Linked DNA regions of Homo sapiens. The protein of the gene in region 2 interacts with the protein of the main gene of each other region in a pairwise test. Each region holds a gene or a part of one and is shown on either strand. Other genes may lie near its edges.

Region 1 (8,638 bases), about 69 Mb from region 2:
GTATGTGCCACGCCTAGGAATTTGAACTTGATCCTGGAGAGGATGAAGAGCCACTGAAAGTTCCTGAAATAATGAGATCATGTAATAAAATCGTAAGATAAGAAAAACTGGAAGTAATGAAACTACTTCGGAAATACTACAATTGTCAAGACAACAGAAAAGGATTTGAACAAATACAGTATTTAAAGGAGAGGTAAAGAAACAGATTTGATAAATGTTTAAAAGAGAATTGATGTTATCAACTGATCAGTACTATAGATACAGTAAGGAAAAAGTACCTAGTATATAACTCTCTACTTCTGGCTTTGGTAGATGGTGCAGGCCCTTCTCAAGATACGTGAAGGAAAAAACTGTGAGGTTTTGTTTTGCTTTCTTTGTAAGGTAGGATATGCTCAAGGAGACGATAACTTTTTTGGATATGTTGATTTTGTGTGACTGCTGTAAAGAGATGTCAGTAGGCAGTTAGATGTGTAAGACTAGAGTTCAGAAGAAAGATCTGTGCTAGAAACATAGATGTATAAGCAATGAACATCTAGATACTAACTTAAGCTCTGTAAGTGAATTTATTAGGAAGGAATATAAAAAGAGATGGTAATGGGGCTAATGACAAGGTACTGAGAAACATCAAATTCTAAAAGAGTGGCAGAGAAACCATAAAGACTTAAAAAATGACAAAAGGATAAAGAAAACATTAGGCCAGTGAAGTGCCACAGAAACAAAGGAAGAAAAATGATTCATGAATCATATAGTTAGTAAAAAATGTTACGGAAGATAATGATTCCAAAGAACCTAGAGAAGTTGGTGTTGGTAACTTCTGTCACAGCAGTTTCAGTAGACTAACAGTAGTAGAAAGTTGTTTAATTAGCTTAATGTAATACATGGGAGATGAAGAAGCAGAGAATAGTGTGGGTTATGCTTAAAGAAGCATGGTTATTTAAAAAGAAAAAGAAGACAGGTTATTTAGGAGAACTAGTGTCTGTTTTTCTTTCCTTTTCTTTTATTCCTTTTGTTGGCTGTTTTTTGTTTGGTTAGTTCTTGTTTTTGTTCTTGTTTTGTTTTGTTTTTTTTAAGTAAAAGCATATTTACAGACTCCAGAGATGGAATCAAAAGAGAAGGAAAGACTAAAAAACAGAAGATTTCATAACTTGAATTTTGGGAGAAGGAATAACAGAAACAGAGAACAGAGAGAAGTATCTTTCATCTAGAGGAAAAGGTAACTTTTCCTCTCAAACTGAAGTGAAGAAAGTAATGGCAGGTAATGATAAATTTGTAAGCATTAGAACAGGAAGACAAAGAAGTTCATTTCTGGTAACTCACTCAGAGCTACTGTATATATGACTGTACTATATCACTCTAGTGGCTATCATTTACATTTAAACAGGTTATGATATATAAAAATACATGTAGAATTTTAAAATAATTTGTTTTAAATACTTACCTTCCATAACATCTTTTTCAATTATTTTAACTACTTCTGTTTGATTATTTGTCTGTTGCTTACGAATAGATGTTTTCTTGAATTTATTCACCATACACTCCTAGAAAACAAAATAGAAAGAATCTAAATAGCTTTCAATGAGCACTCAAGTATAATGCTTAGCACTATGTTCATTCTATGGAAGATACAGTATCTGCTACATAAGAATTAACATCTTTTCTCAAGGAGTTTATAATTTAATTGAAAAGATAATCATAAAATATTAGGAACCTACAAAAATTATTCATTTTTCAAAGTATATTTTAAGCATATAGAGAAAGGGATCAAAGGGAGCTAGAATATTTAAGAGGTCTTCCAGAGTAGGTGGGTATTTAAGTTATAAAGGACACACAGAAACCCATTAAGGAAATAAATTACAGAAGATTGTTAATTAAGGGTCACAGTTCTATGAGAATTACAGTGGTCTGAAAGGTCACTTTTTTTTTTTTTTTTTGAGATGGAGTCTCGCTCTGTCACCCAGGCTGGAGTCCAGTGGTGCGATCTCTGCTCACTGCAACCTCTGCCTCCCGGGTTTAAGCAATTCTCCTGCCTCAGCCTCCCAAGTAGCTGGGATTACAGGCACGCGCCACCACGCCTGGCTAATTTTTATATTTTTAGTAAAGACGGGGTTTCACCATGTTGCTCAGGCTGGTCTTGAACCCCTGACCTCGTGATCCACCCGCTTCAGCCTCCCAAAGTGCTGTGATTACAGGCGTGAGCCACTGCGCCCGGCCTGATCATTGTATTTTTAACTTTCTAATAATTCCACCTCTTCTGTCCAAATTAATTGTACGTACAATCAACAGTCCAGCTCAAGCCCCTTCTTTAAGCATTCCTTAACATTCCCAACTGTCTTTCCCTTTGCTAAACTCCTACATTATTTCTGAATTCCTGGCATTGTCACTTAACAGTCATTTAACTGCTCTGAGCATAATCTTTCATGATAAAAATGAATTGTTACAGGGCTCAACTGAAATAACGAATGAATGTAACCAGCACAACTCCAGTTAATGGATGATAGCTGACTCCACATCAATACAGTTGTTAAAGGACACCTCCCGCAGAAACTGTGAAAAATGTAATAATTTCTGAAATAACAAATACAAATTCTATTATAGAGGAATTCACAAGTAATTCTGAGTTAATTTTAAAACAACTCTTTCTTTAAATAGTAAATTAAAATTTTAGAAACATAAATGTGAGAGATGGGGAGAGTGAAAAATGAAATCATAAGAAATTCATATCAATAAAATGCTTCTCACTTCAAAAACAGCTACTCACATGCAAAAACTCCATAACTACTTTATCAAATTTAGTTTGTTTCTGTATATGATCTAATGTTTCCTGATGTGAAGAACTTTCCAGATGCAGTTCAATATCTTTTTCTTCAAATGTTCGAAATTTACAAAATGAACATGTAAATGCCATTCTGTAAGAGAAAAAAAAGTTTTCCTTTAAATATTACTTTATTCAACTATAAAGAGTTCATAAGAATATAACATTGAAACTAATTTTACCAACATAAATGATTTCCTTTCTTCCTCTTTATGACTGAATTAAACTTAGCTTAAATCCAAAAAAAACAGTATTTAAGTACATATTTGGACAGTACCCATATACCACTTTGCATTTCTAGCCCACCTTGGAGCTTCCGGGTAGGAAAAATTGAATCAGGGGATCTATAAGTTATCCACTTCAAGCCTGGACCAATTAAAAAGGCAAAACAAACCTCAAGAAGTATCAAGTTCCAAAGTTCTGCAACTTATTTTACATGTTGTTCCATCCTCAAGCTTCTAAACCAATGGTAGTATCAATAAAGCAAGGTGGCACACCACCAGACAATCATAATTCACTCCTGTGGAATTCTTGGGTGATAAAAGTCTTGCCTTCTAAAGACTACTTCACTTAGGGATAACTAATAGGCCTGGACTGGACAAATGCATACATCTGTAAGCTCAAGAGCCACTCCATAATGAACAGTCCCACCTAATTGCTTCTTTTTTTCTTTTTCTTTTTCTTTTTTTTTTTTGAGATGGAGCCTCGCTCTGCTGCCCAGGCTGGAGTGCAGTGGTGCGATCTCAGCTCACTGCAACCTCCACCTCCCCAGTTCAAGCAATTCTCCCACATCAGCCTCCCAAGTACCTGGGACTACAGGCATGCGCCACCACACCTGGCTAATTTTTATATTTTTAGTAGAGACAGGGTTTTTGCCACCTTGGCCAGGCTGGTCTTGAACTCCTGACCTCAGGTGATCTGCCTGCCTCGGCCTCCCAAAGTGCTGGGATTACAAGTGTGAGCCACCGTGACCAGAATAACTGTTTCTATTTTACATTATTTTCTTTTCCTTGAATTATGCCAGCAGTCACATAACTGGTTTCTGTCTCCAGTCTCCATTTTCCAATTAATTCTTTGCAATGCTATTAGATTTATTTTCCTGGTTGAGAGTATGAGCTCTGGAGCCAACTGCTGAGTTCATATCCTAATTCCATTTTGTGATCTTGGGCAAGTTACTTGACTTGGTTTTCTGGGCCTTGGTTTTCTTACATTGAGATGAGAACGCTCACAGAGGTGTCTGAGGATTTTTAAAAATTAATGCAGACAAAGCCCTTAGAACATTTCCTAAAACACAATAATTATTCAATTAATTATTGCTACTTCCTATAGGAGGTAAGAGCACATTACTGCTCAAAGGGCTTCATTAGCTCCATAAGCTCCAAAAACAAAGACAAAAATGTTTTCAGCTGCCATCCAGGAAATTTCCTAATCTCTTCTTTTTGGCTTTACTCACCAATACCTTTAACATTATCTGGCACAGCATTTCTTCATTAAATGTTTAAATTAGATTATACCTTTCACCCATTAGAGTCACTTCAATCTACACTGCTTTCAATTTTCTAAATAACAATAACACATTCCTGTTTGCTTTGATGGCAAGCCATGGCCTCTACCTGGGCTGCCTCTCACAACTCCTCCTGTAACCCTACCATTCCCAGATCAATTCAAATACTACTTCCATCATTGCAGCCTCCCCTGATTTCCATGCACCCTTATTTATTTATTTTTTGAGACAGAGTCTTGCTCTGTTGCCCAGGCTATGGAGTGCAGTGGCGCGATCTCAACTCACTGCAACCTCCACCTCCCAAGCTCAAGCTATCCTCCTACCTCAGCCTCCCAAGTGGCTGGGACCACAGGCACGTGCCACCACACCTGGCTAATTTTTGTATTTTTTGTAGAAATGAGGTTTCACCATGTTGCCCAAGCTGGTTTTGAACTCCTAGGCTCAAGCAATCCGCCTGCCTTGGCCTCCCAAGGTACTGGAATTACAGGCATGAGCTACCATGCTTGGTCTCCTATACCCTTATTTAGAAGTTATATCTCATGAGACTACATTGTACTCCTGGTATCCTTCACCATACACTATTATTTATGTACATCTCTCACACATCCATCTCTTTCTCCCTAGGTTCCCTTAAGGGTAGATATAAACCTTTCCATGTGCTTTATTATGTGGGAAGCATTCAAATATCCAAGGGAAGGAACCTATCACAAGAATAGTGATTTACTCAATCTCGAATCCTCATAACTCAAAGTAAAACTGCTCTGATAAATGAAAATAACTTAGACTACTTTAAATAAATTATATCCTAAAATGATAATTTATGAGTTAACATTCTTTTGGTTATATCATCAGATTTATATTTAGAGTTACAGAGAAAATAGCTAAATGAAAGTTCAATTCTTTCATTTTCTCTATATCACAATTTTATATATTATATTAACATGAACATAATCCATATCTAAAATTTTTCATGAGAAAAGTACTCATAGGGCAATTAAATTTAAAAAATTGCATCTTATAATGTAAAATGATTTTTACACTCCAAGACGCTGATAATTTAAAGTCATTTCTACACCAAAATATTAACTATGCCTGTTACTTCTACCAAAAGAAGGAATCACAAGAGATAATGAATGGGACAGAGAACTCACAAGGACTAAAAATAGCAGTAGTTCTTGAAACTAGAACTACTCTTCTTTTTATGGATTGTTTTGTTTTGTTTAGAGATGAGGTCTTGCCACGTTGCCCAGGCTGGCCTCAAAATTCTGGGCTCAAGGCTTTAAGAAAAATTTAGACATTTTTAAAAAACTGCTAAATTGCTAATAGTTATAATATACTGTCACCAACAAATTTTAAGCGTCCTTTGACCATTCCTTAATTAGCAAATCAAATTTCTCCTTAGTAATAAAATGGCATACTATTATTTAAATTTTTAGTTTAATGAAATTACTGTTAAGTTTAAACAATTTCCTTAAAATTATTACTAGCTGTTTTTTGTTTCCTCATCATATTAAACAGCTTAGTTTTCTTACTTTTTAAAATAATTTGGGTGATGTTTTAATCTAACTTGGACATTAATCATTTCTCATGTTTATATTTTCCAAGTCTGTTTGCACTCCTTTCAAATTTTAAGTTTTTATTTAGCCAAATCTGCTCATAATTTCCTTTGTAATTTATTCTATAACTTTTAAGCCTGGGAAAAAAATCTCCTTGCAGAACATTTTGTTTTTCTGTAATTTCATTTTTTTTTTACTACATTCATTCCAGGTGTCATATGAGGAGGCTCTAAACTGATTTTTGTTGTTATTTCATTGTTCAACCAATTCCCCTCTTTTTTTTTTTGAGACAGAGTCTCGCTCTGTTGCCCAGGCTGGAGTGCAGTGGCTCAATCTCATCTCACTGCAAGCTCCGACTCCCGGGTTCACGCCATCGTCCCGCCTCAGCCTCCCGAGTAGCTGGGACTACAGGCACCCACCACACCTGGCTAATTTTTTTTTGTATTTTTTTAGTAGAGACGGGGTTTCACCGTGTTAGCCAGGATGGTCTTGATCTCCTGACCTCGTGATCTGCCCGCCTCGGCCTCCCAAAGTGCTGGGATTACAGGCATGAGCCACTGTGCCTAGCCCAATTCCCCTCTTATTTCTAATATCCTCTTTATTAAATATTACATTCTTCCTTACAGTCTGTTCACAGGCTAATCTGGTATAATAATTAGCTTTGTGTATTACCACATATTTTTAACTATTATAGCTTTTTAATGATTGATTATCTATAAAAGCCAGTACCTACTCATTTACTCTTCTTCAGAATTTCCTTTGGGATCTGGATTGGAAAGAACTTACATATTTGTAATATTTAATTCCTGCCCATGAAAATCACTATGACTCCATACAGTCAAATCTCAATGACAAGTGTTTCTTTTTAAGAATACTGTTATTTCTGAATATTTGATATCTTTTGGATTGCCAATATGAATAGAATGCCTTTTTTCTTATGTTTTCTAAGTAGTGATTACATATAAATATCAAAAACCAAAAGCATTCCTCTGTATCTTTGAACAAGTCTTTTCATTTGAATCTTAAGAACTTTTTAATATTACAATTGATGTGTTGGCTTTTTCTAGGAAATCATTTTTTAATGAACCTAATTTTCTGACTCTAAGTACAAACCTGTATCCATCTCCGTATTTCTCACTGTTTTTTTCTCTTCTGCGCCTTTGTTTCTCTCGCCGAGCCTCAATTCGCCGCTTTTCTTCCTCTTCATTTTTAGGATCAGTTTTTGCTAGGATATTACACAAAAAAGTAAAAGCTAAAATTCATTTTTCCATTCTCTCTTTCCAATCATCAGTTCGTAAAGTACATACTTATGAGGTATACTTAGTGATTGTAATCTAAAATTGAACTCACCAAAAAAATCGGAGTTTGAGACTATCCAGTATTTCTGAAACTTCACTAAATGAACTTCATTCATTTGAATACCATCATCATGAATTCTGTCATATCTGCTTGTCATCTATGTGATTATTTGCTACATATTTTTCTTTAAATGTGCTCATTTGTCCTATCCTTATTCTAAGCAATAATATCCTTATCACCTAAAATCATCTTGGGCATCACATACTTTGGGAAAAACACTAAAGTAACCTGACCGAGCATGAAAATGGAAGTCCAGTAAACACTGCAGAGCCCTGGATGCAAGAACTCATGTTCATATTGTAGGAGCTCTCAGAAAGTTTCTTAAAATTTGTAACCTCCAAAATAAAAGCAAATTTGTTCTCTTTTTTAAAAAATATTCTCTATTGTGATAAAATACACAAAACATAAGATTTACTAGTTTAACCATTTTAAAATGTGCAATTCAATGGCATTAAGTACATTCACAAAGTTACGCAACCATCTCCACTATCTAGTTACAGAACTGTTCATCATCCCATAAAGCAGTCACTCCCCATTTCAACCCTACCCTAAGGCCCTGGTAACCACTAATCTGCTTTCTGATCTACGGATTTGCCTATTCTAAGTATTTCATATACCTAGAATCATCCTGTCTGTTGCCTTTTTGGTCTGACTTTTATTTAGCATGTTTTCACAGTTCACCCATGTTGTACCATGTATTAGTAAGTACTTCCTTTTTTATGGTTTAATAATATTCCATTGTATGAATAACCCACATTTTTTAAACCATTCTTCTGTTGATGTATATTTCAATTGTTTCTACCTTTTGGCAATTATGAATAATGCTACTATAAACATTCATATATAAATTTTTGTTTGGACCAGGCACAGTGGCTCATGCCTGTAATCTTAGCACTTTGGAAGGCTGAGGCGGATGGATCACTTGAGGCCAGGGGTTCAAGACAGCCTGGCCAACATGGCGAAACCATCTCTACTCAAGATACAACAATTAGCTGGGCGTGGTGGTGCACATCTGTAGTCCCAGCTACTCAGGAGGCTGAGGAACGAGAATCGCTTGAACCCAGGGGCAGAGGTTGCAGTGAGCCAAGACTGCACCACTGCACTCCAGCCTGGGCAACAGAGTAAGATCCTGTCTCAAAAATAAAAATAAATAAATAAATAAATTTTTGTTGGAATACTACTTTAAATTCTTTGGAATAGAAGAATACCTAGAAGTGGAATTGCTGGATCATATGGACAGTCTATGTTTAATTGTTTCAGGAAGCACCAATCTGCTTCCCACAGTGGCTTCACTGCTTTACATTCCCATCAGTAATGTGTGAGGGTTTCAATTTCTCCATATCCTTGTCAACATTTGTTATTTTCCTTTTTTTATTATGACCATCCAAGTGGGTATGGAGTGGTAAC
Region 2 (8,638 bases):
CCTACCTCCCTGGATCCACAGCATCCAGGAACTTCTCAAACTTGGGCTCATGTTCATCCTCCTCCACCATGGGCAAGTAGTAATTGAGTCCTCTCAGGCAGGACCGGAACTCTTTGTGAGTCAGGCGCCCTGTCAAATTCTCATCAAAGTGTCTAAAGGATAAAAAAAGAAAAAAAAATTTATCAAGCTCAATAGAAAAACCAAGTGAGAACAGAAAGGAATATGTCTTATTGCGTCAGCTGAAGCTTTATTGACCTGTCACAAAACTATCAGAGGACTGAATACAAAGCCTGTCTGTGTCATGTACATTTTTTTAACCTAATGGATAGAGAGAAAAGCATAAAACATTGAGAATGAAGAAATGTATTTTTTGAAGTCTGAAAATCTCACAGAAAGCCATGACTGGAGCTAATGAGCATATCTAGATCTTCATTTAAGATTCCACCAAGCCTCACAGAGTGAGAGAAACATTATTTGTAGACTCATTCTGAATAATCTGAAAAACAAAGAAGCAGTTAACTATGAAATTATACTCACTTATAGATTGTGCTAAATTCCTTTAGAGTCTCTTCACTCACACCTTTGATGTCCCTGAAAGAAAAAAAAAAAACATGAATTTTCCCTGTATATGAAACACAGGTTAGCAGAACACAAGCCACATGGAAGAGAGAGGAATTTTAATGGACAATTTGCTATTTGAGTCATCTAGTTCAAGAGTTGGCAAACTATAGTCCATGGGCCAAATCTAGGCTGCCACCTGCTTTTGTACAGTCCATGAGCCAAGAGTAGATTTTACATTTTCATATGGTTGAAGACAATCAAAAGAAAATTTTTTGAAACATGAAAATTACATAAAATTTAAATTTCAATGTCCATATATAAAGCTTTATTGGAACATGGCCACGGTCATTCACTTATCATAGCTGCTTTTTTCACTACAACAGCAGAATCAAGGAGTTACAGCAGAAAATATATGTGCCTTACAAAGTTAAATTATTTATTATCAGACCATTTACAGAAAAAGTTTGCCAATCCTAATCTAGATAAAAATGTTGCCAAAATGCTATTGAGACCTAGAGCTGCTTTGATATAGTGAATTTATCTAGAAAATGAGTTTCTGCCCTTCTGCTCTATTTGGCCACACTTTAAATGTTTCTTTTAATCTAGACATTACATTTTAGATAAAATTCTATGAAAGGGAATGGTTTCCTAAGAGATCACATAAGATGGTGAAAGAACTCTGAGAAATTGGGTATAAAAGTCAGTTGTTGTCCAAGTGGGTGATGAGTAGGCTCAGGTGGATGGAGAGCACTGTCTTTTATTTCATGATGGATTTCAGTATAAAGAGAAATAGTCATTCCGTGGGGCAGTAAAGACCCAGAATATTGGTTCTCTGAAGCAACTCTTTTATCTGGTGCACCAAACTCTCGCCCTTAGTTAAGGTCCTAACACCTAACACCACCTGCATCCCTCCCTGCTCTGGCCACACGCCCTCAATACTTGGCCTGGATCTGTTGCTCCAGGTTGTGTTGCATCCGCAACCCAAGCTGGTAGAGCTGGTCCCACTGCTGAGCCAATCCAATGGTGCTGTATTTGATATCAAGGATCAGAGCGTCTTCCAAGTTGTCCCCCAGGTCCACAATCTTGGTTAGTTGACGCTTCATCGCCTGGATCTCCTTCTGTTTTCTCTGGAAAAACGACAGAGAAGAGAGACAATTAGTTGCCCAGGTTACCAGCTCAAAACCTAGAGGTGGAAGAGGAGATAACAGGCTGATTTTATTTTCAGGAATCTTCTTGTTCTCTGTGAAAAGATGAACTACTTGGGAAAACCACTTCACTTCTATAGTCCTCATTTATAAAATAATGGGAAGTTTAGGTGAATAAAACTTGTCATTCTGGTATTCTGCAACATATAAATCTAAGAGTTAGTAGTTATACACACACACACATACATCTATATCTATATATTCTTTCTATCTATCATCTATCTATCATCTATCTATCTGTCTGTCTATCATCTGTCATCTATCAAGAGAGCCAATAAAGAAAAATAAAATTTCCAGAGTCCATGCATCATCAATGGCTCACAGTGATCTGCACTGGGACTTATCTGCAACACTGATTGTGGCTGAGCTCTCAGGCTCACTTAAGCTCCACAGTGTTCACTCCTGGGCCACTTTCATCAACTTGGGATGATTTTCATGGGCTGCTCCTGCCATGCAGACATGTTTTATGCCAAATTTCTGCATCTTGCCCATGCTTTCTCAGTGAGGGAATATTGCTCATAAGGGTAAGTGTGAATTTATTCTGATGATTGTGGAGTGCAGTGAAAAAAATGTGGGATATGACAAAGCTTGTAGCCTTTCAAAGGTCAAATTTGCCTGACATCTTTTTTTTAAGTTTCATTTATATATAATAGATGTACATACTTCAGGGTATACAAGACAATTTAATACATTCATATAATTTGTAAAGATCAAATCAGTATATGTTGGATGTCTATTACCTTAAATATTTGTCTTTTCTTTATGCTAGAAACATTCAAAGTATTTTCTTCTAGCTATTTTAAAATATACAAGGTATTATTGTAAACTATGGTCACCCTACTGGTCTATCAATTACTAGTCTTATTTCTTCTATCAAACTGTATATTTATACCCAATAATCAACCTCTCTTCATTCCTCTATCTCCCCCTACCATTCCTATCCTCTAGTAATCTCCAATATACTCTCTGTCTTCATGAGATCCATTTTATTTTGCTCCCACCTACGAGTGAGAACATGCAATATTTGTCTTACTGTGCTTGGCTTATTTCACTTAATATAATGACATTCAGTTCCATCCATGTTACTGAAAATGTCAGAATTTCATTTTTTAATGGACAAATAATATTCCATTGTGTATACCATGATTTCTTTATCAGTTAATCCATTGATGAGCAGTTAGGTTGATTCCATATTTTGGCTATTGTGAATAGTCTCCCTGTTATCTCCTGTCATAAACATGGGAGGGCAGATATTTCTTTGATATATTAATTTCCCTTCTTTTAGATATATACCCAGTAATGGGATTGCTGAATCATATGGTCTTTATCTTTTTAATTTTTTGAGGAATTTCCATACTGGTTTCCATAGTGGCTGTACTATTTCCACTTTCTCTACATCTTCACCAGCATCCATTATTCCTTGTTTTTTTAATAAAAGCCACTTTAACTCAAGTGAGATGACAGTCAAAACTACCTGACATCGTATTCTCTAGTATTTCATTTTTTTGTTAGAAAAAAATTAAATGTCATTACTTAATTTTTTTCTCCTGCAAGAATAATAGTAAAAAAAAAATGTTGAGAAACACTGTTCTAACCCATTACTTCGCTCAGTTGTCAAGAGATGATTAGATTCAATTGTATCATCTTACTACGTCATATAATAACAGAAATTTGCCAGTGTTGGGCACTTTTACATTTGCTCCTTTACTTCATCATCATGTTCTAAATCCTTTGTAGCCACAAAACGTGAAACCACCCACCCACTGTTCCCAAAGCCTCTCCCACTCTGGGCAGATCAGAGTCTCCCATGAAATTCTTTCTTCAGGGCAAACAGTGACTCTACAATGGGTACTAACTCTATTGTGTAGATGCAGAAATTGAAATTCAGAGATTTAAGTAGACTGAGGTTTATATTCATGATGTGATGGCCTATGGTTAAAATGGACTTCAGGTGATACATACCTAAAAGTATCACCTGGGCTTCCCTTAGGTGATTATTTTTACACTCCTTATAATTTTGGCAATATCTTCAGTTAATGAAAAAACAATACTTACTTTATTTGCTTCCAGCTGAGATTCCAGAGTTCCTGTTTCTTTGAGCAATGATCTAGTTAAGAACCGAAGGAAATCATTATGCATCACATCACAGGTCAATATTTCATACATGCATACCAACTCGAAGCTCCTCTGTTTCAACTTCTCCAAGGTTATGTGGCTTACATGAAGCAAAATTTCACAGAGCCAAATTTTCACAACCTTGCCAGACTGATGAGAAGGGAAGACTTTCCCTAGTTCTTCTCTGACTAGGAGAAGGCTTTCACATACCCCTCTTAATTATTCTTCTTAAATACACACTTAAGCAATGTAGGCAAGATTCCGTCTAGTGAAGTATAAGGGCAGAATGAAATATAATGAGCTTTTCCTTCTCACTCCACATTTTTATTTACATACTACCAGATTACAATGGAATGAAAATGTCTCAGCACTAACTCTTTCTTAACGAATTCTTCCATAATAATATAATAAAGCAAACATGATGATAACATAAAATACTGACCCATCCAGAAAGTAAGCCCTGGACATGGAGGTCCGGAACAGGAATCACATGAGAGAAAAGGGAGATGATATGTTAAAATGGATTACTTTAAAGATCTCATTTCCTCAGATTTATGAAACATTTTAAATCTTTTGTTGCCACAAAACATGAATCTGTCCACCCACTGGTTCCCAAGGCCTCTCCCACTCTGAGAAGATCAGAGTCTCCCATAAAGCTCCTTGCTTCAGGACAAGGAGCACCAATGTCAAGGAATATGCTTGGTGTTGGACACACATTGCCAGGATGTGATGAAGTCACCAAGAAAAGAGGAAGAGAAGGGTGTTCTGTGTCTTCTCTGCCTTCTGTCAGATGGTTTAGACATGGTATAGGATTTCTTTTTGTTCATTTATCGTTGTCAGTGAGTATGTAGAAAAGTATATATCATGAATTGTCTAAACCACCACATTAACCCTCAAAACACCACAGTTTTGACACACCTACTGGATACAACTTTGACCATGTATTCTAATATATTACATCTTCTAAGTCTCCTTTTTCTAGGTCATTTACCCCAGAAGATGTGACATATGTTATCTTCAGGTACAGAACAGTTTGCTATTAATAAGCACAATTAACATAAATTATCTCACTTGATTCTCATTAGAACTTTAGTAGGTACACAACAGAATAGCTTCATATGAGGTATTCATAGAAGATTCTGCTTCTGGTTATGCCAGTAAATATATATGTGACCTTGAGCAAGTAAATTTATCTACTTGAACTTTCCACACTTGGAAACAGAGCTAATAAGAGCTGCTCTGTATGCTTTTCAAGGTTGCTCCGACAGTTAAGTGAGGTAATGGATATGGAAGTACTCTGTAAAGTGCAATATGGCATGTGAACATAAGAAATTGTTATTATTTTGGACTGAAATTACAGGCAACAGAAAGAAAGGTGAGAGTATCAAGGAGAGAATACAGAAGTGTACATAATAAGCAGAAGGATGAAATTGTCATTTCTTGGTTTTCCAAGAATTGATTCAGAAAACAGTCAACTCCAAATATAAAGCATAGGCAAGATATGGGGATTTTAGGGCAGAATACATGCTCTCAGAGTCTCTCCTCTTCCCTTCAAACATGTATTTCATCCCTATGGCAAATGGTGGTGGCACAGGGGTCATGGTTTGGGATGTAGCATAGCACACCTGGTTTCCAGGATCCATTGAAGGAAGGTACTGGCATTCTGTTCAAACTCCTGACACATCTCAAAGTTCTTGACCTGTCTTGCCTCTTCCTTTTGCAGCTCCTGCTCCCGTTCCTAAAACCCCAAATCACAGACAACGTGACTGACATCGAAGGCCTTTCTTTGCCATAAGAGAATTGGTTTGTAGGCTTAACTGCATATCTTTCCTCTCTCAAGTCTAACCTATCTTCCACAGGTATGTGCCTGTGTGCTCATATTTCATGCAGTCAACCTCTCTCACCTCTAAAATGTAAAGATAGCCTGTGTATTTCCCAAGAGTACTTGCAGGGTCCTCTAAGACCAAGTCCCGTAACAAGTAAGCTAGTAATAAAAGCAAACCTCTCCTGTTTATAATTTCTTTTGGGGAAATTTAATTTAAATGAACACAAAAGCAGCCTTAAAGGGCCTGCTACCCTTAGAAACAATAGTTACTATCTAAAAATGGTGATATTGTGGTTAGTTTTCTATTACACTTTTTATGTTTCATAGTTTCAATAATGAACATTATTAACACAGACAAAAGCTAAAAATACATACGTAGCAAGGCACTTTTGGAGGTGTATATAAAAACGAAAATGTCTTGAATGAGGGGGATATGTAGACAATGAATACATATAAAGCCTCATGAACTTTTCATAGCTCATCATTAGAACCATGTCTTGGGGCTTCTGTTTGCTTCTCAGAATCATTGTTCAATACTCAAAAACAGGAAACTGCCCAAATTATGGGGCATAGGGTATACCTATGATAAACATATTTTCCAGTTTTTCTTAGACAGTCATGTTTCATGACTTCTGTCCCAGTATAGTTATTAATAGTGTTCCTTCTATGTCAAAAGTCTATTTACTTGGATAATAAAGTGGTTATGTTCACTGTAGTGAAAGGAAGTTTCTGCCGTGTTCCAGGTTACCTCAATGATGTCAGATAGGTGCTTCCAGGTCCTTTCCAGCACCTCCACTGTTAACCAGGTATAAGGGCTGGAAGGCACACCTAAGGCCTTAATCTGCTGGTCTAGCTCCAGCAAACATTTAAAGTCTGCTTGAGCCCTAGCCAGGGAGGCCAAGAAGTCCTCATGGTCTTTCTGCAGCTGCCGAATTTCATTCAGGGAGACACAGTGCACAGGCTCTGACAAGTTTTCTTCCATCTTTTCACACCAGTTGTTCAAAGCTGAAGCCTTATGTGCAAATTCCACGAACAGGTCCTCAGCCTGCAGAGAGAAAAAAAAGACACTACCATCTTTCCTGATAAAGCCTCTCAGCAGAAGAGAAGATTGAGGATAAAAATAATGCCTGTCTTTAAATATCTGCAGGGCCACCAATCTAAAAGGGCAGAACTAAAACCAATAGGGACTGTGTACTTTGATGGTTGAACATGTGAGTTAGCGGTACGAGCCCTGGTTCTGGCATTTTCTCATTGTGTGAAATTGTTTAAGTCTTTCATCATTTACAAATGAGGGAGGTCGAATTATTTCTAAAATTATTTCAGTTTTAAAATTCCAAAAGTAGCAAAGGTAGTTTTCAATTATATGATTTCTTGTTCTAAAGTCTATCCTCCAGTTCTACCCGGCAAGTAGTAAACATGAAAAAAAAAAAAAAAAAAAAAGCATTGAATGAATGGATGAAATAATGATTGAATAAACAAACCAAGAAAATCTGTTATCTCCTTTATCTTATTATCCTACAAGCTTCTGTAGACCACACCCAGCTGACTTCTCTTTGACAAGGCTATGTCATTTTCCTACCTTCCTTTTAAACCTTGTTCAGGCCTCATTTTATGCCTGAAGCTTTTCAAACCACTGCTTAAACTTATCTTCTACCCTCTAACCTGTATCCTTAGCACAAATATATGTATCATTGTATTACTGTCTGGCATTATCCAAGTGCTCTGAATAGCTCTGAATTTTCTGTATTACTGAATGACAGAAAAAGCATGAATTTTTTCAAACAGCAAGTGATCAAATATACTTTTATACTTAAAATACATTACAGATTTTGGGTCAGCAGATAGTACTTCTAAAGAGGTTTGTCTTGAGCAAACATAAAAATGAATTTTTCATTCCCAAATACAAGAATTAAAAAGAAGAAAACTGGCCCAAATGGAGGGAGGATTTCAAAGGTATTAAACCGTTACATCTGACCCTGTACTCATTTCAGCAATCTATATGCCAAAATAGATCAATACAGAGAAAATTAACATGACCTCTACACAGAAAGGACACAGAAACCTATAAAGTATTTAATATCTTTTTCATAATGTTATAGATTGAGTGAATATTTTATAAATATCTTGTAATCAGAAAATAAACAAAACTCATTGTAGTTTGAAATTATTTTAAAAAGAAGATTAAAAATATGAAGGAGCTTCCTATATAGAATGCACATATATGTGTAAAGTTGCCCACTTAATTGATTTAATTTTTCACCTAAGATTTATTTGATGTAGGCCCTATGTTTTTCAAAAGTGTGGAAATTAACTAAGACTCTGATTTGACTTTTACTCATGTGTTATTTCCTAAATTCCCTAACTCCTTGACTTAATTTGTTACCAAGTACAATGATTCTTAGGGTCTAGGAGTGCTCAGTAATTCCACTGACCATTCTGATTTCCTTTTATTTATTTTTTGAGATGGAGTCTTGCTCTGTCGCTCAGGCTGGAGTACAGTGGCCGCGATCTGGGCTCACTGCAAGCTCCATCTCCCGGGATCACGCCGTTCTCCTGCCTCAGCCTCCTGAGTAGCTGGGACTACAGGTGCCCGCCACCACGCCCGGCTAATTTTTTGTATTTTTAGTAGAGACGGTGTTTCACCGTGTTAGCCAGGATGATCTTGATCTTCTGATCTAGTGATCCACCTGCCTTGCCCTACCAAAGTGCTGGGATTATAGGCGTGAGCCACTGCACCTGGCCTCCTTCCATTATTGATATTTTTATGATCAACATCCAATGCCTTAGCAGCCAACATTTGAAGGAATATTTTGATTACATATTTATATGGAATTTTATATGGATGTAGTAATGTAATAATGTTACATTATTATATTAATCCATATTAATCATACATATTTATTATGTATTATTAATGTACATATATTTAGGT
Region 3 (4,961 bases), on a different chromosome or scaffold from region 2:
CCCCCGCCCAGGCCATCACCACAGCTGCAGCCAACCCCATCCTCACACAGATTCACCTTTTTTCACCCCACACTTGCAGAGCTGCTGGAGGTGGAGTCAGGTGCCTCCCAGCCCTGCCAATGGTGGGGGCACTCAGGTGTGGGCTGACCCTGATACCTGCCTGGGATAGCCGCTGGTAACTGTTAGGAACTTTCCTCGGATGTGTGGGCCCAAGGCCCCCACCTCTGTGACCCCCATGTCCTTGGACCTAGAGGATTGTCCACCTTCTCCCAAGGCCAGCCCACATAGCCCGAGCCCCTCGGGGAGCAGTGGCCGGGCTGGGGAGGCCTGCCTGGTCAATAAACCACTGTTCCTGCAGCTGAGAGCCCTTTGCCCTCACACAGGGTCAGCTCTGGGCAACAAAGAGGGAGTGGCTCAGACAGGGTCAGAGAAGTCTCATCCCAAACTCTGGCTTCCAGCATCATCTGTTCCTGGAGGCCAGGCCCTGCGCAGACCTGGCCACCCAGGGTGCTGGACACCCCCAACCCTGACTCCACAAGGACCCAGCAGGGCCCATGGGCCCAGGCCAGCACGGAGGGGACTCATGCAGATGCAGAAGCCAAGCTCCCCAGGTGGCCCTGGCATGCCTCCCCGCAGGGCTCCTCCTCAGGCCATTCCTGCCACCCTGAGTCCTCTATCCCAGTGACCTGCATCAGGCTCCTCCTAGTGGTTCCCACAGGACACTGACCAGGCTGCGGCAGGCGCATACTTGCACTCCGGGCCTTCTCCCATGCTCTCCAGCCCCCAGCCCCACAAAGCAGGCTGGATGTGGTCCTCATGCCCTGGGGCTTGGATGGGGGCCCCTGTACAGATGGCAGTGACAGCATCCTGGGACCAGGGCTGGGGCAGGAAAGGCTGGAGGGTCCCAGTCTCCAGGCAGGGGGAGGGGTGGTGGGCTGGGCACACAGCCCAGGAAGGGGCCCCCAGGTAGAGGCCTCTGCTGCAACAGAGGTGGGGGCCCTACCAGGGCCCCGGTTATGGCAGAACCTGCAGCTATCACACAAGCCACATTTGGGCCACACTGAGGCATCTTTATTTCTCTGGGTCACACAGAGCTTGGGCCTGGGAGCCTCTTCTGCATGGGGGCTGCAGCTGCCAAGGGAGCGGCTGAGACCAGAACAAGCGCTCGGGTGGGCCCCAGTGCAGGTTGGGATGTGCCCGGTGGAGTAAGGTGTGAGAACCCCCAGCCTCACTCTCTGCCTGGTCCTGAAGCAGACAGCAGCAGGCTGGCCCAGCCTCCCCTTTATGAGACTATCCTAGGGTTTGACAGCAAGTCCCAGATGAAGGGTGACAGGCAGCTGGGGTCCACCTGGTCTCTCCTCAGCAGGGGGAACCCCCTGCGGGCAGCTGGGAAGGCAGTGGCCAAAGGTCAAGAAGATGAACTCTGCCCAGACTTCTGCTGCCTGTGGCTATGGTGGGACAGGGCTGCCTTTCTGGTCACACTGGGCAGCAGGCGACTGCCAGGGACCTCCCAGTCCCAGGGCTGCATTCCCTGCCCGGCAGCCCCTCTGCTGCAGCTTTCGGATGAGTTCCAGCAGGTTCATCTGCAGCATCAGCTCCTGGGATACAGAGGGGCCCCATGAAGGCCAGAGTGACCCCCAGGCCCCTTTCATCCCGGCCCAAGGGTGCCAGGCAGTGAGCCCACGGGGGCGACCATCCTGTGAAGCCTGGTCATGGCCTGCCAGGACAGGGTGGAATCTGAGCTTCTGCCCCCAACAGGGCCACTCGGAATCTGAGCCTCTGCCCCCAGCAGGGCCACTCGGAATCTGAGCCTCTGCCCCCAGCAGGGCCACTCGGAATGGCATGCGGGAGGGGAGCAGAAGAGGGCCCTGTGTGGCACAGCAGGCCTGGAGAGGGTGGGCAGTGCCCATGGCTGGCTGGCTCACCCTCCTGTAGGGAATGGGCCTGGCCTCCGTGCTGGGAATGGCACAGAAATCCTTTCCAGAGCCTCAATCCTTCCACTTCACCCCCATACCCTGAGCCTGGCTCCCCAGGGACCAGCAGTAAAACCCCAGATGGAATGGGGCCCCGGGGCACTCGGGCTAGGGCAGAGCAGGCCCAGGCACTGACCTGTGGGTTGGTGGTCACGTAGAAGCCAGCCACCCCCGCCTTCTCCAGTGTGCTCTGCTGGTCAGCCACCTTCCGGTCCAGCTCCAGGATGATCTTCTGGTCCATCGCCCGCTGCTCCTCACGGATCCGGTGTTCCACGGCCTGCCATGGGGCCAGGGCGCGGAGGGGGAGAGGTGAGGGCAGCTCTGCCATCAGGGGGCGGGGAGGTGAGGGCAGCTCAAACACATGCTCCTGCTGCCGTCCCCAGTGGCAGCAGCTCTGACACCACCGGTGCATCCTCACCACACCCAGGCCTCTCCTCGGCCATGTGAACCCCTGAAGGGGGCCCCAAGGGGCTTCCACGAATGCCCTGGCTTGGGACTGCCTTAGGACCACACACACATCTCCACAGGCACACCCTGCCCCACGGCTTGTTGGTTACATGCCAGTCTCTGGTTGTCCCTGTGCTCCCTGGGAGAAGGATGGGCCCCTTCCTGGCCCCAACACCCTACCATTGCCTTTGTACCCCCCTGAGGCCACCTGCTCTGTGGAGGCCCAAACCCACGAGGAGCTGCTATCCAGGGGAGCACTGGTGGGTTCTCAACCTCCACCCAGCCCCAGCACACTTGGTATCCGCAAAGAGGAGCCACCTGGTGGGACTCACTAGGCCTCCAGTGTCCCACTCAGGCCCAGGACAGCCACCCATGCCTGAGCCCCCACACCCCTTCAGCTCAGCCCAGTCAGCAGAGCCAGGTGGTGCCCACAGGAGAGCTGGGCCGGCCACCCTGCCTGCGCCCCCAGTACCTCTAGTTCTCGCTGCTGAGCCGCCTGAACCACAGGCAGGTTGTGGGGCCGGCAGGCCTGCTGGGCTTCCTGGTGCTTCTGCCGCAGCGCCTGCCTGAGCACTGGGAGGGATGAGAGCCCGTCAGCAGGCGGTGGGACTCGGCAGCAGCCCTCACCCATGGGCACCTGCCTTGCCAGCCCAGCAGAGCAGCCAGGCCAAAGGGGTGTCTGCAGTGGGGAGGATGCCAGCCTCCTCCATCCTCCCACCCCACTGTCACCCAGGGCCGGGCCCTTATCTGGTGGCAAGTCTCCAGGGGACTCCAGAAGGTGCGGGGCACTGAAAGAGTGGGGTGGGGAAGACTGGCCAGGTGGGGCCAAAGCTGCAGCCCCAGACCCAGGGCAGCTGGAGGAGGCAGGCGGGAGGGAGGCTGCAGTCTGAGGGCTTCAGGGCCCCCATGGCCACAGGCCATGAGACATCTACTCAAGTGTCAGAGACCACCTCAGGCAAAGGCATGGGAAAGGAGCAGGAGGAGCGGGGTCGCTGACCCTGAGCGTGGGGCCTCTGCCTACCAGGGGTGTGGTCGGGCCCTCCACCCTCAGTGCTGCCCTTCAGGGTAGACAGCCCCTCCCTCATTTGCAGCTCCCAGCCCCCGCACAGCGCCAGAGGGAGAAGGGTGGGCAGACCTGGGAGGCCCAAGTTTGGGATGAGCTTGGGGTGCCATAAGCCTGTGTGGCTCTGAGGGGCTCACCCTCAGCCATCAAGTAAAGCTCCACGGTCCTTGCTAAACTGTGCACAAACACAGATGTGTGCAAACTGTCTGGTCTGAAGGGAATGTACAGAGGAAGCGATCATGGGACATAAACCACCATGAAACAGAACATGCAGCACCCCACAGCTGGCGCCAGTGACCAGTAAGTGCCAAATGGCTACAGCTCCCCAGGAGGGAGGGGTCCCTGGCCAAAAGAAAAGGTGAAACCCAACACTCTGTTCCTGGGAAGAGCCCTGATGTTGCAGCTCTTCTCTGGTGGCCAGTCCCCAGGGAACTCCAGGGCCCCTGAGGCTCCCCTGCAGGTAGCCTGGCTCCCGCTGTGCCTACAGCCTTCCCCGATCTCCTGTCTCTTCACATTCTGTACACACCTCGACGATGGTATTTACCAAAAGCCCCCCTCAAGACAGCTCCATAACACAGGGAAGCAGGGAAATGTCATCTCCTTCACTCTACTGATCAAACATTGCTACAAGTGCCAGGTCCACTACCAGATTCCACTAGATAGACAACCAAAAGGCAAGAAGAGAGCCACGCTGGCTGCCTGGGCAGAAGGGGCCTGGCCTTAGACATGACCAGGGAACACAAAGGAGGCAGGAGCAGCCAGTCGCCCCTGCCAAATCAGCAGGAGAAGCAGAAAGTCAATGCAGGCATGCCTGCTGCTGGTGGAACCAGGGCCTGGCCCAAACCTTCTGAAGCACAAACAGCATTGGGCCCAGGCAGTTACTAAAACTCCCCATCCTGCTATAAGGAACTATAGCTCTGTGGAAAAATGGCCGATTCCAGGACTGAGACACGGAGAAAACAAGAAAAGATGAGCCTGAACACATACCTGAACCAGAAAGCAAGAAAGTGCTCACAGAATGATGGGGCGGCATCTAAAGGTGCCTGGAGCGCCCCCAACTGGCCACACATGGCACAGTCTGGGCATTAAGGAATAATGAGCCATGCGCTTGGGATTAGTAAACTACATACATCTTACAGCTCAATAAAAAATTTTAAAAAGACAATCGCCCAGACATTTAGGGGAAGAAGTAATGCCAATTCTACACAAACTCTTCTGGAAAACTGAAGAGGAGAGAACACTTCGAAACTCATCCTATAAGGCTGGCAAAAACCCTGATACCCAAACCAGATATTACATGAAAACTATAGACCACAGTTTATCATGAACATAGACCAAAAAATTCTTAAGATTTTAGCAAATCAAATCCAGCATACATAAAAAGGATACTACAGCACGACCCAGTAGGATGGAATTCAAGTGACTGTAATTCACTGTAGTAATAGAAAATGATTCACCACGTGATCATCTCAAGAGCT
Region 4 (9,430 bases), on a different chromosome or scaffold from region 2:
GAGGCAGGGCAGTGCCCAGCTCCATGTAAGTCCATCTGTCTGGGTCCCTGAGACCCAAGATGCAGCAGTGTGTGGAGCAGGGGGCCGCCCTGCCTGACCCGGGAGGTCCTGCAGGGAATGCGGCCCAGGCTGGTCGGGTGAGCAGGCCAAAGGCTGTGGGGTCAGATCCGGAAGCTTTCCTCCCGGCCATCGATGTGGCGGAGCCGCAGGTAGACGTCCGTGCCAATGCCCTGCAGGGACTGCAGCTGCAGAGACCCACCGAGGTACTCCGCGTAGGCCCGTGACGTGGGCAACCCGAAGCCAAAGCTGGGGGTGGGCAGGGGGACAGGACAGGAGGCTTCAGAGGCTTGAGTCTCCTGGGGTCCCCCACCCCTCCATCCTGGCCTGGCAGGGTCTCACCCGTGCATGGGTCCTGACTGGGCGCCACTATGCATGTCCAGATGGCCAAAGAGGGGGCTGATCCGGGGGTCCTGTGTGCTGGCCTCAGCAGTAGTGAAGTGGTAGTCCATGACCCGGTCCAGATCTTTGTGAGCGATTCCTCCACCACGGTCTGAGATCCTAGCAAGATGGCAACAACAATGGGCTTGGCTCAGCTTTGATGGGGTACTCACCACCCCCCAAGCAGACAGTGCAAAGTCTGCCTTCCTGTTCCTTCCACCCAGAGCTGGAATGTGGTCCACCTAGACCCTTGGGCCTTGTTTATATCATCCTCACCCCTGCCAGGGCCACTGACTGCTTATACCTTCTCACAGGATGTGACATTTATCCTCGGCCCAGCATCCTAGACCGACTCCTGACTATTTCTCAATTTCAAGCTCCTCAGCTGCTGACAGAGGCAGGATACCTAGGCCTGCAGCTGGCCCCAGATCCATTAATAAGCAGCTCATGGCCATCTCAGGATTCAGAGAATAGTTTGTCTGGTCAGGGACCAAGTCCCAGAATGGGGCAGGAAGGGGCTCAAGGTCCTAAATCAAGTCAGAAACAGTGCCTAGACCCCCATCCCATCCACCTCAGCTCAACTCCCACTCAGGGCAAACCTGATGATCAGATCGACATCATTGTTGGCGATGGTGATGACCACATCTGGGACATTGTAGGGAGTGTCTAGGTGACTCTCCATTGTGGCTCTATGCAGAGGGGAAAGACCAGTAGGTACAAGCACCCCGGTTCCTGTCCGCCCCCAAGCCAGCACATCAAGCCACCCCACCTCATGGCATTCTTGAGCAGCTCCGGCAGGATGTAGTCCAGTGGCATAGGGATGAAGGGGAACCGGGCAGCCACATGGCCATTGATGCGGACACGGGGCGCATTGCCATACTTGTGCTCACACAGGCGTCTGCGGATAGGAGCGAGGGTTCAGTCAGGGGCCCCTCCACCAGTGGTTTGCAACTGGAAACAATTCTGCCCCCCTAAGTAACATATGGCAATGTGCAGAGACATTTTTGTTTGTCACAACTAGGCAGTACTGCTGGCGCCAGGGATGCTGCTGAACTTCCTAACGTGCACGGGGCAGCCCCTGTGACAAAGAATTATCTGGCTGGAAATGTCAATAGTGCCATGGTTGAGAAACCCTGCTCCCCGCAGATCATGCCCCGGGCAAGGGCTCAGACCCAAGCCTTCCCTGCCCCAGATGTCTGCCCACCCCCTGAGCCATTCTTGCCTCACCTGGCAAAGTCCACCCACTTCTCAATAATCTTCTTTGGTGAGAGACGAGTACAGATGATGCCGACAAAGTCAGGCTGGCCGGAGAAAGGAGGTCAGGACTACCCACGCCCCTAGCCCCACCCCAAGATGCTGGCAACTTCGGAACTGCCCCAAAGCACCAGCCCCACAGCCTCAGCCCCCAGGCCCTTGACCCGGATCCCCAGCCCAGTCTCCTCTGTCTCACTTAATGTTCCCAGGTGGGTCTCAGGTCCCAGAGCCCCACCTTGTCCTCATGCAGCGCCAGGTGATGCGTGGCCAACATGCGGATTCCAAGCCTCGAAGTCAGCGTCTTGTCCAAGAAGTAGCGGACGAGCTTTTCATCCTGTAAAGAGTGAGGTCTCAGAATCCCGTGCCCTTCCCACCCCCAGCAGGCCCGGCCTCTCCTTTGCTGCCCCAACCTCTATGTGCTTCCGGCTCTCACGTAGGCCCTCTGCCAAGAGGGTCACCACATCCTTGTGGTCATCCAGCAGCTGTCGCACCAGCTGGCAGTACTGGGCCTCGTCCGCCTGGTCCTTGATCTGCAGGTCACAGAGTCATGAGGAAGGGTGGTCCAAGCCCAACCTCTCAGCCCCTCACCCTGCTCTGGCCCAGCACTCACCGGAGGGAAGTCTGTCAGCTTCTGGAAGGCACGGATATATAGCTCATGCTGCAAGGAAGAGGTGTGGGAATTCACAAAGCCGCATGGGCACTGAGCAGAGAACAGCCACCCCCACCTACCCATGGGGATCACCACCCAGCTGGTCGACCACGTGATCAAACCCCCACTTCGACCCTTCCAGGCTCCGTGAATACACACCTTTGGCTTCTGAAGGCCTGGGGTTGAATCCTGTGTGGCCCTGACACCTTTAGGCAAGCAATCGTCTGCCACTCTGGGCCCCAGACTCCCCACTTGCCCCCGGGGCAGGGTGGCCCGCTGACCTAAGGTCCTCTCTACCTTACCACGTGCAGTATGGTGGGGTTGCAGCCAATGATGAAAGGAAGGCAGCGGAAGCCCTTGATGCGGTGAGCAATCCTCACTGGAAGTTCTTGCTGCAGGTACCGAGCACTTTTCTGGGAGAAAATGAGAAGGGAAGGCGGGGCTGGAGCCTGAGTGTCTGGGAGAGCTCCAGGATCCACGAGGAAAATAGAGGGCGTGAATCTTACCAGAAGGTGGCTGCCGTCCTGAGAGCGGCCAGCGTAGAGCATCATGGTGGGCGTTAGGCGGACTGAGGGCTAGAGAGGGAGAGAGGCCTTGAGCAGAGAACCCCCAACACTCTCCCTCCCGCCTACATCCCGGACCCTGGGCTGGCTGCCCCCTTGCGCACCTTCTCCGCTGCCGCGTCGATGGCCGACTGGTTGTAAAAGGAGGTGACGGTCTTGGAGCGCTCCCGAGCCATCTCCACGTGGTGTGTGTCGGTGGCCGACGTCGAGCGGGCCCGGAGCGCGAGTGCGGGTCCCAGGAGGGGCCGGAGCGGAAGCCCGCCCCCGGGACCGCTCCTCAGCACCGACGCCAGGATCATCGTCTTGCTCCTTTCAGACCCGGTGGCCGCTAGGACTGAGGATCCGCTAGGACTGAGGACCCAGGCGACCCAAAATGGGGCAAGGGGGTGTGGGTGGGTAGGGGCTCTTCTCCGACTTCAGGGACCAGGGTGCGTCGAGGATGCTGACAGGCTCAGCCCGCGGAGAGCAGCTCCCATCTACCGGGGCGGGGAAGAGGAAGTTGTAAGGATCCGAATCCACAGAACCCGCACCATCTCTCCACCTGTGCATCGGTCTCCCCAGACCCGGGCGACCTCTCCCCACCACTCCCACCGTCTCCCCAGATGCACACAGGCCGCGCCCAAAGGACCTAGCCTCCCGGGGGCTTCTATTCCCCAACCCGAGGCTCTACTGGCGGTGGGAGGGCTGTCGGGGGAGGAGCCCCTCAGACCCTTCCAGCCCGAAAACCTCGCCCCAGCGCCCCGGGGTCCCGGGTACCCTTCTCAGGGGGCGGGGCTGCCCCTGCCTGCCCAGCGCCTTCAAACCCGGGCCCTGGGAGCGCGGCCAGCGAACGTGCGACACCAGCCCTGGGCCCCTGGGGCCGGCTTGGGAGGGTGCGGCACGGAGTCCCCAGCGGGACCCCCCACGCGGGTCACTTGGTTCGGCCCGGATGCCCCCCATATGGTAGATGCCAGCCCCGTCTGCGCGCCCGCGCTGTGATGGAGGCTGCGGACGTGCGCCGCGGGGCCTCCGCGGACTGAGTAGGCTGGGGTCGCCCCACTTACCGCGGGGCCGGAGCCAGGGCCCGGGTCCCAGCGGAAGGGCTCGAACAGTCCACTCGCCAGGCGCCCAGCCGCCTGCGCCCTCCGCCGCCGTGACGTCGCGTGGGCGGCAGCGCCCGCTGGGTCCTGGGAGTTGTAGTTTGGTCTGAGGACGTGCCGTCCCGGGCGCCCGCGCATCCAGGCCACGCCCTTGCTCCCGGACCCCAAACAGCACCGCTTCCTCCACACGGCTCTCGAGGCTCTCCGTGTCCCTCCCAGCCTCTATCTCCTGCTCTATGAAACGGGCTCCCTGGGAGCTGGAAGATCTTAGATGTAAAGCGCACAGATCACGCCCTACCTGACTCCTTCTCGGAGCTCTTGTCCTCCTTCCAGTTCTTGGTTCATTTATGGGTAACCAGGCTTCAAACCCCAGCTCGACCCCTTAATATCTGGAGCAAGTTATTTAACTGCTCAGTGCTTGGTAAGATGAAGAGATATCATCAGTTTTGGGGTTGTGTGGATTACATGAATTTATATGAGTGCCTAGAACAGTGCCAGGCGTGGAATTAGCACTATATAAGGGTTAGGCATTATTATTATTCACTCATGCCTGCAGATAATGCAAGTCGCTGACTGGGTGTCTTTTCTGCACCAGGAGAGGAGATTGGGCAGTGAGTTGAATAGATCTTTCCGTGCCCTGCATAAGAAAACAGTTTCAGTATCATTGGCTGTGATGAGGACTTTCAGAGGAGGCTGCGGGAGCCTCAGATAGAAACTGAGACAGCTGTGTAGGTGCAGCCTGAGTAGGACTTGCAAGGGAGCGGGGTGGGAAGGGTGTGTGGCAGGACAGACAACAGCCCAGATGGTCTGAGGATATGGCTGGAGCCATATGGGATCTGGGAAGGAGAGGGGCGGCAGCAGAGAGCGAAGGATAAGTCTGCATTTGTCCTAGGGTAGTTAGGAACTACTGAAGGGTTTTAACTGGTGGGCTCTCCTCCTTAGACAGAACCCCTTGTCTGCAGTGATTTAGAGTGGGGCGTTTGGTGAGACCAAAGGCAGAGAAACCAATAAGAAGACAATTACTTTAGGCCAGGCGCAGTGGCTCAGGCCTGTAATCCCAGCACTTTGAGAGGACGAGGTGGGCGGATCTCAGGAGTTCCAGACCAGCCTGGCCAACTTGGCAAAACCCCGTCTCTACTAAAAATACAAAAATCAGCCGGGTGTTGTGGCTGGCGCCTGTAATCCCAGCTACTCGCGAGGCTGAGGCAGGAGAATCGCTCGAACCCGGGAGGAGGAGGTTGCAGTGAGCCGATATCCCGCCACTGCTCTCCATCCTGGGCAACAAGAGCAAAACTCCGTTGCAAAAAAAAAAAAAATTATCCAGGCAGGAGGCGCTGGAAGGGACACGTTTCAGTGTGTGCACGTGCATATGTGTGTAGTGTGTATTTGTACTAATTGCAATTTTCTTTACCATGGTTATATATTTCCTAAATATGTTCAATAAAAAGTGCTAAGTGAAGCAAGTGACATCTTTGGAGGCTATCTTTATTTATTTATTTGGAGATGGGGTCTCGCTCTGTTGCTCAAGCTGTAATACAGTCGCTCCATAGTAGCTCACTGCAGCCTCCGACTTAAATGATCCTCCCACCTCAGCCTCTCAAGTAGCCGAGACTGTAAGTGTGCACCACTACCCCCAGGGTGATTTTTTCCCCCTCAGGCAATCCTTTTGCCACAGCCTCCCAAAGTGCTGGGATTACAGACGTAACCCACCGTGCCTGGCCTATTTTTCTTAGAGCCGGGGTCTCGCTATGTTGCCCAGGCTGGTCTCAAATTCCTGGCCTCAGCCTCCTGAGTTGTTGGGGTTACAGGAGTGAGCCACTGGGCCTGGCGGCTGTCTTTAAACTTGGAGGTTAGCCAGGTGCAGTGGCTCATGCTTGTAATCCCAGCACTTTGGGAGGCCAAGGCGGGCAGATGACCTGAGGTCAGGAGTTCGAGACCAGCCTGGCCAATATGGTGAAACTCTGTCTTTACTAAAAATACAAAAATTAGCCGGATGTGGTGGCATGCACCTGTAATCCCTGCTACTCGGGAGGCTGAGGCAGAAGAATCGCTTGAACCCGGGAGGCGGAGGTTGCAGTGAGCCAAGATCGTGCCAATGCACTCCAGCCTGGGCGACAGAGAGAGGCTCCGTCTCAAAAATAAATAAATAAATAATAAATAATAAACTTGAAGGTGAAAAAAATAAATAATAAATAATAATAAATATAAACTTGGAGGGAGGACGCCTCACCGTGACTGGCCTGCCTGAGCAATTGGGGGCAGACCACGGGAAAGGGGCGCCCTGCATCTCTGGGTTTCCTCTTTGACCCCCACCCACACCATTCCCACCCGTTCTTTCCCAACGTCCTGGAGTACAGCCAGGCGGCGGCAGCCCCAAGGCAGCCACGGCTGGAGCCCGTGGTAAAAGGGAGCGGGAAGGGTGCTCCTGGCGGGGAGGACAGGCTGCGCAAAGCAGCAAAGGACTGGCAGTGGTCTGTGCGCCAGAATCTGGCGCTCACGTGGCCGCGGCGTGGACAGGAGCCGCAGGCGGAGGAGGCTGCGGCTGCCACCGAGGTGGAGAGGTCTGGCACAGGCCTCACCCCATTTGACCCCGCTCGCTAGGCCCCGGCTCGGCCTGGACTCGCTGCTGCCCCCGGCGGCGGAGGTTGGACATGCACCTCGCGACCCCCTTTTCAGAATACTGTATACAGGTCAGGCGGCTTTCTTTTTTTTTTTTTTTATTTTTTTATTTTTTTTTTTTTATTTTTATTTTTTATTGATCATTCTTGGGTGTTTCTCGCAGAGGGGGATTTGGCAGGGTCATAGGACAATAGTGGAGGGAAGGTCAGCAGATAAACAAGTGAACAAAGGTCTCTGGTTTTCCTAGGCAGAGGACCCTGCGGCCTTCCGCAGTGTTTGTGTCCCTGGGTACTTAAGATTAGGGAGTGGTGATGACTCTTAACGAGCATGCTGCCTTCAAGCAGGGCAGAGGGGCTCCTCACTTCCCAGTAGGGGCGGCCGGGCAGAGGCGCCCCTCACCTCCCGGACGGGGCGGCTGGCCAGGCGGGGGGCTGATCCCCCCACCTCCCTCCCGGACGGGGCGGCTGGTCGGGCGGGGGGCTGACCCCCCCCACTTCCCTCCCGGACGGGGCGGCTGGCCGGGCGGGGGGCTGACCCCCCCACCTCCCTCCCGGACGGGGCGGCTGGCCGGGCAGAGGGGCTCCTCACTTCCCAGTAGGGGCGGCCGGGCAGAGGCGCCCCTCACCTCCCGGACGGGGCGGCTGGCCAGGCGGGGGGCTGATCCCCCCACCTCCCTCCCGGACTGGGCGGCTGGCCGGGCGGGGGGCTGATCCCCCCACCTCCCTCCCGGACTGGGCGGCTGGCCGGGCGGGGGGCTGACCCCCCCACCTCCCTCCCGGACGGGGCGGCTGGCTGGGCAGAGGGGTCCTCACTTCCCAGTAGGGGCGGCGGGGCAGAGGCGCCCCTCACCTCCCGGACGGGGCGGCCGGCCGGGCGGGGGGCTGACCCCCCCACCTCCCTCCCGGACGGGGCGGCTGGCCGGGCAGAGGGGCTCCTCACTTCCCAGTAGGGGCGGCCGGGCAGAGGCACCCCTCACCTCCCGGACGGGGCGGCTGGCCGGGCGGGGGGCTGACCCCCACCACCTCCCTCCCGGACGGGGCGGCTGGCCGGGCAGGGGGCTGACCCCCCCTCCCCCCTCCCGGACGGGGCGGCTGGCCGGGCAGAGGGGCTCCTCACTTCCCAGTAGGGGCGGCCGGGCAGAGGCGCCCCTCACCTCCCGGACTGGGCGGCTGGCCGGGCGGGGGGCTGACCCCCCCACCTCCCTCCTGGACGGGGCGACTGGCCAGGCAGAGGGGCTCCTCACTTCCCAGTAGGGGCGGCCGGGCAGAGGAGCCCCTCACCTCCCGGATGGGGCGGCTGGCCGGGCGGGGGGCTGACCCCCCCCACCTCCCTCCCGGACGGGGTGGCTGCCGGGCGGAGACGCTCCTCACTTCCCAGACGGGGTGGCTGCCGGACGGAGGGGCTCCTCACTTCTCAGACGGGGCGGTTGCCAGGCAGAGGGTTTCCTCACTTCTCAGACGGGGCGGCCGGGCAGAGACGCTCCTCACCTCCCAGATAGGGTTGCGGCCAGCAGAGGCGCTCCTCACATCCCAGACAGGGCGGCGGGGCAGAGGTGCTCCCCACATCTCAGACGATGGGCGGCCGGGCAGAGACGCTCCTCACTTCCTAGATGGGAAGGCGGCGGGGAAGAGGCGCTCCTCGCTTCCTAGATGGGATGGCGGCCGGGCAGAGACGCTCCTCACTTTCCAGACTGGGCAGCCAGGCAGAGAGGCTCCTCATATCCCAGACGATGGGTGGCCAAGCAGAGACGCTCCTCACTTCCCAGACGGGGTGGCGGCTGGGCAGAGGCTGCAATCTCGGCACTTTGGGGGGCCAAGGCAGGCGGCTGGGAGGTGGAGGCTGTAGCGAGCCGAGATCACGCCACTGCACTCCAGCCTGGGCACCACAGAGCACTGAGTGAACGAGACTCCGTCCGCAATCCCGGCACCCCGGGAGGCCGAGGCTGGCGGATCACTCGCGGCTAGGAGCTGGAGACCAGCCCGGCCAACACAGCAAAACCCCGTCTCCACCAAAAAAAAAAACGAAAACCAGTGAGGCGTGGCGGCGTGCGCCTGCAATCGCAGGCACTCAGCAGGCTGAGGCAGGAGAATCAGGCAGGGAGGCTGCAGTGAGCCGAGATGGCAGCAGCACCGTCCAGCCTTGGCTCGGCATCAGAGGGAGACCGTGGAAGGAGACCGTGGAGGGAGACGGAGACGGAGACGGAGACGGAGACGGAGACGGAGACGGAGAGGGAGAGGGAGAGGGAGAGGGAGAGGGAGAGTCAGGCGGCTTTCTAAGCGCTTTCAATGTATTTTTAAAAATTTACATATACTCGATGTAAAAGAGAACTGTATGTATTTATTTATTGAGACAAGATATCGCTCATGTCACCAAGGCTGGAGTGCAGTGGTGCGATCACAGCTCACTGCAGCCTCGAACTCCTGTTCTCAAGCAATCCTCCTGCCTCAGTCTCCCAAAGCACTGAAATTCCAAGCGTGAGCCCCACGCCTGTCCTACAACATTATTTATTTTATTTTATTATTTTTTCTGAAACAGTGTCTCACTCTGTTACCCAGGCTAGAATGCAATGGCATGTTCATGGCTTACGGCAGCCACAACCTCCCTGACTCAAGCGATCCTCCTACCTCAGCATCCCGAGTAGCTGTGACCACAGGTGCCTGCCACCACACCCAGCTGATTTTTAAAAAAATTTTGTAAGGACGGGATCTCCTTGTGTTGCTCAGGCTGGTAACGATGGATCTTCTGGCCTGAAGCGATCCTCCCATCTCAGCTTCCCAAAGTGTTGGGATTACAGGCGTGAGCCACTGGGCCCAACCAACTTCTCTCTT

What was found.
Region 1: the proteins of SPTA1 (region 2) and ZNF326 interact in binary tests that used the Homo sapiens proteins (3 or more experiments, as listed by UniProt).
Region 3: the proteins of SPTA1 (region 2) and DGCR6L interact in binary tests that used the Homo sapiens proteins (3 or more experiments, as listed by UniProt).
Region 4: the proteins of SPTA1 (region 2) and BCKDK interact in binary tests that used the Homo sapiens proteins (3 or more experiments, as listed by UniProt).

What each region holds. Positions count from the first base shown.
Region 1 is NC_000001.11:90,011,585-90,020,222, reverse strand, and holds part of ZNF326 (DBIRD complex subunit ZNF326), read right to left. Parts: intron 7,098-8,638; coding exon 6,986-7,097; intron 2,907-6,985; coding exon 2,759-2,906; intron 1,539-2,758; coding exon 1,439-1,538; intron 1-1,438. UniProt on the Homo sapiens protein: Core component of the DBIRD complex, a multiprotein complex that acts at the interface between core mRNP particles and RNA polymerase II (RNAPII) and integrates transcript elongation with the regulation of alternative splicing: the DBIRD complex affects local transcript elongation rates and alternative splicing of a large set of exons embedded in (A + T)-rich DNA regions.
Region 2 is NC_000001.11:158,613,716-158,622,353, forward strand, and holds part of SPTA1 (spectrin alpha chain, erythrocytic 1), read right to left. Parts: intron 6,752-8,638; coding exon 6,455-6,751; intron 5,620-6,454; coding exon 5,507-5,619; intron 4,342-5,506; coding exon 4,324-4,341; intron 3,874-4,323; coding exon 3,822-3,873; intron 1,689-3,821; coding exon 1,501-1,688; intron 592-1,500; coding exon 538-591; intron 153-537; coding exon 6-152; intron 1-5.
Region 3 is NC_000022.11:20,313,227-20,318,187, forward strand, and holds the end of DGCR6L (protein DGCR6L), read right to left. Parts: intron 2,994-4,961; coding exon 2,893-2,993; intron 2,251-2,892; coding exon 2,110-2,250; intron 1,599-2,109; coding exon 1,449-1,598; 3' UTR 1,012-1,448; downstream 1-1,011. UniProt on the Homo sapiens protein: May play a role in neural crest cell migration into the third and fourth pharyngeal pouches.
Region 4 is NC_000016.10:31,102,997-31,112,426, reverse strand, and holds the start of BCKDK (branched-chain alpha-ketoacid dehydrogenase kinase isoform a precursor), read right to left. Parts: upstream 4,042-9,430; 5' UTR 3,948-4,041; intron 3,381-3,947; 5' UTR 3,204-3,380; coding exon 3,009-3,203; intron 2,917-3,008; coding exon 2,848-2,916; intron 2,755-2,847; coding exon 2,644-2,754; intron 2,351-2,643; coding exon 2,303-2,350; intron 2,223-2,302; coding exon 2,103-2,222; intron 2,027-2,102; coding exon 1,928-2,026; intron 1,740-1,927; coding exon 1,666-1,739; intron 1,337-1,665; coding exon 1,208-1,336; intron 1,128-1,207; coding exon 1,038-1,127; intron 559-1,037; coding exon 400-558; coding exon of another isoform or gene 396-399; exon of another isoform or gene 307-395; coding exon 162-306; 3' UTR 1-161. UniProt on the Homo sapiens protein: Serine/threonine-protein kinase component of macronutrients metabolism.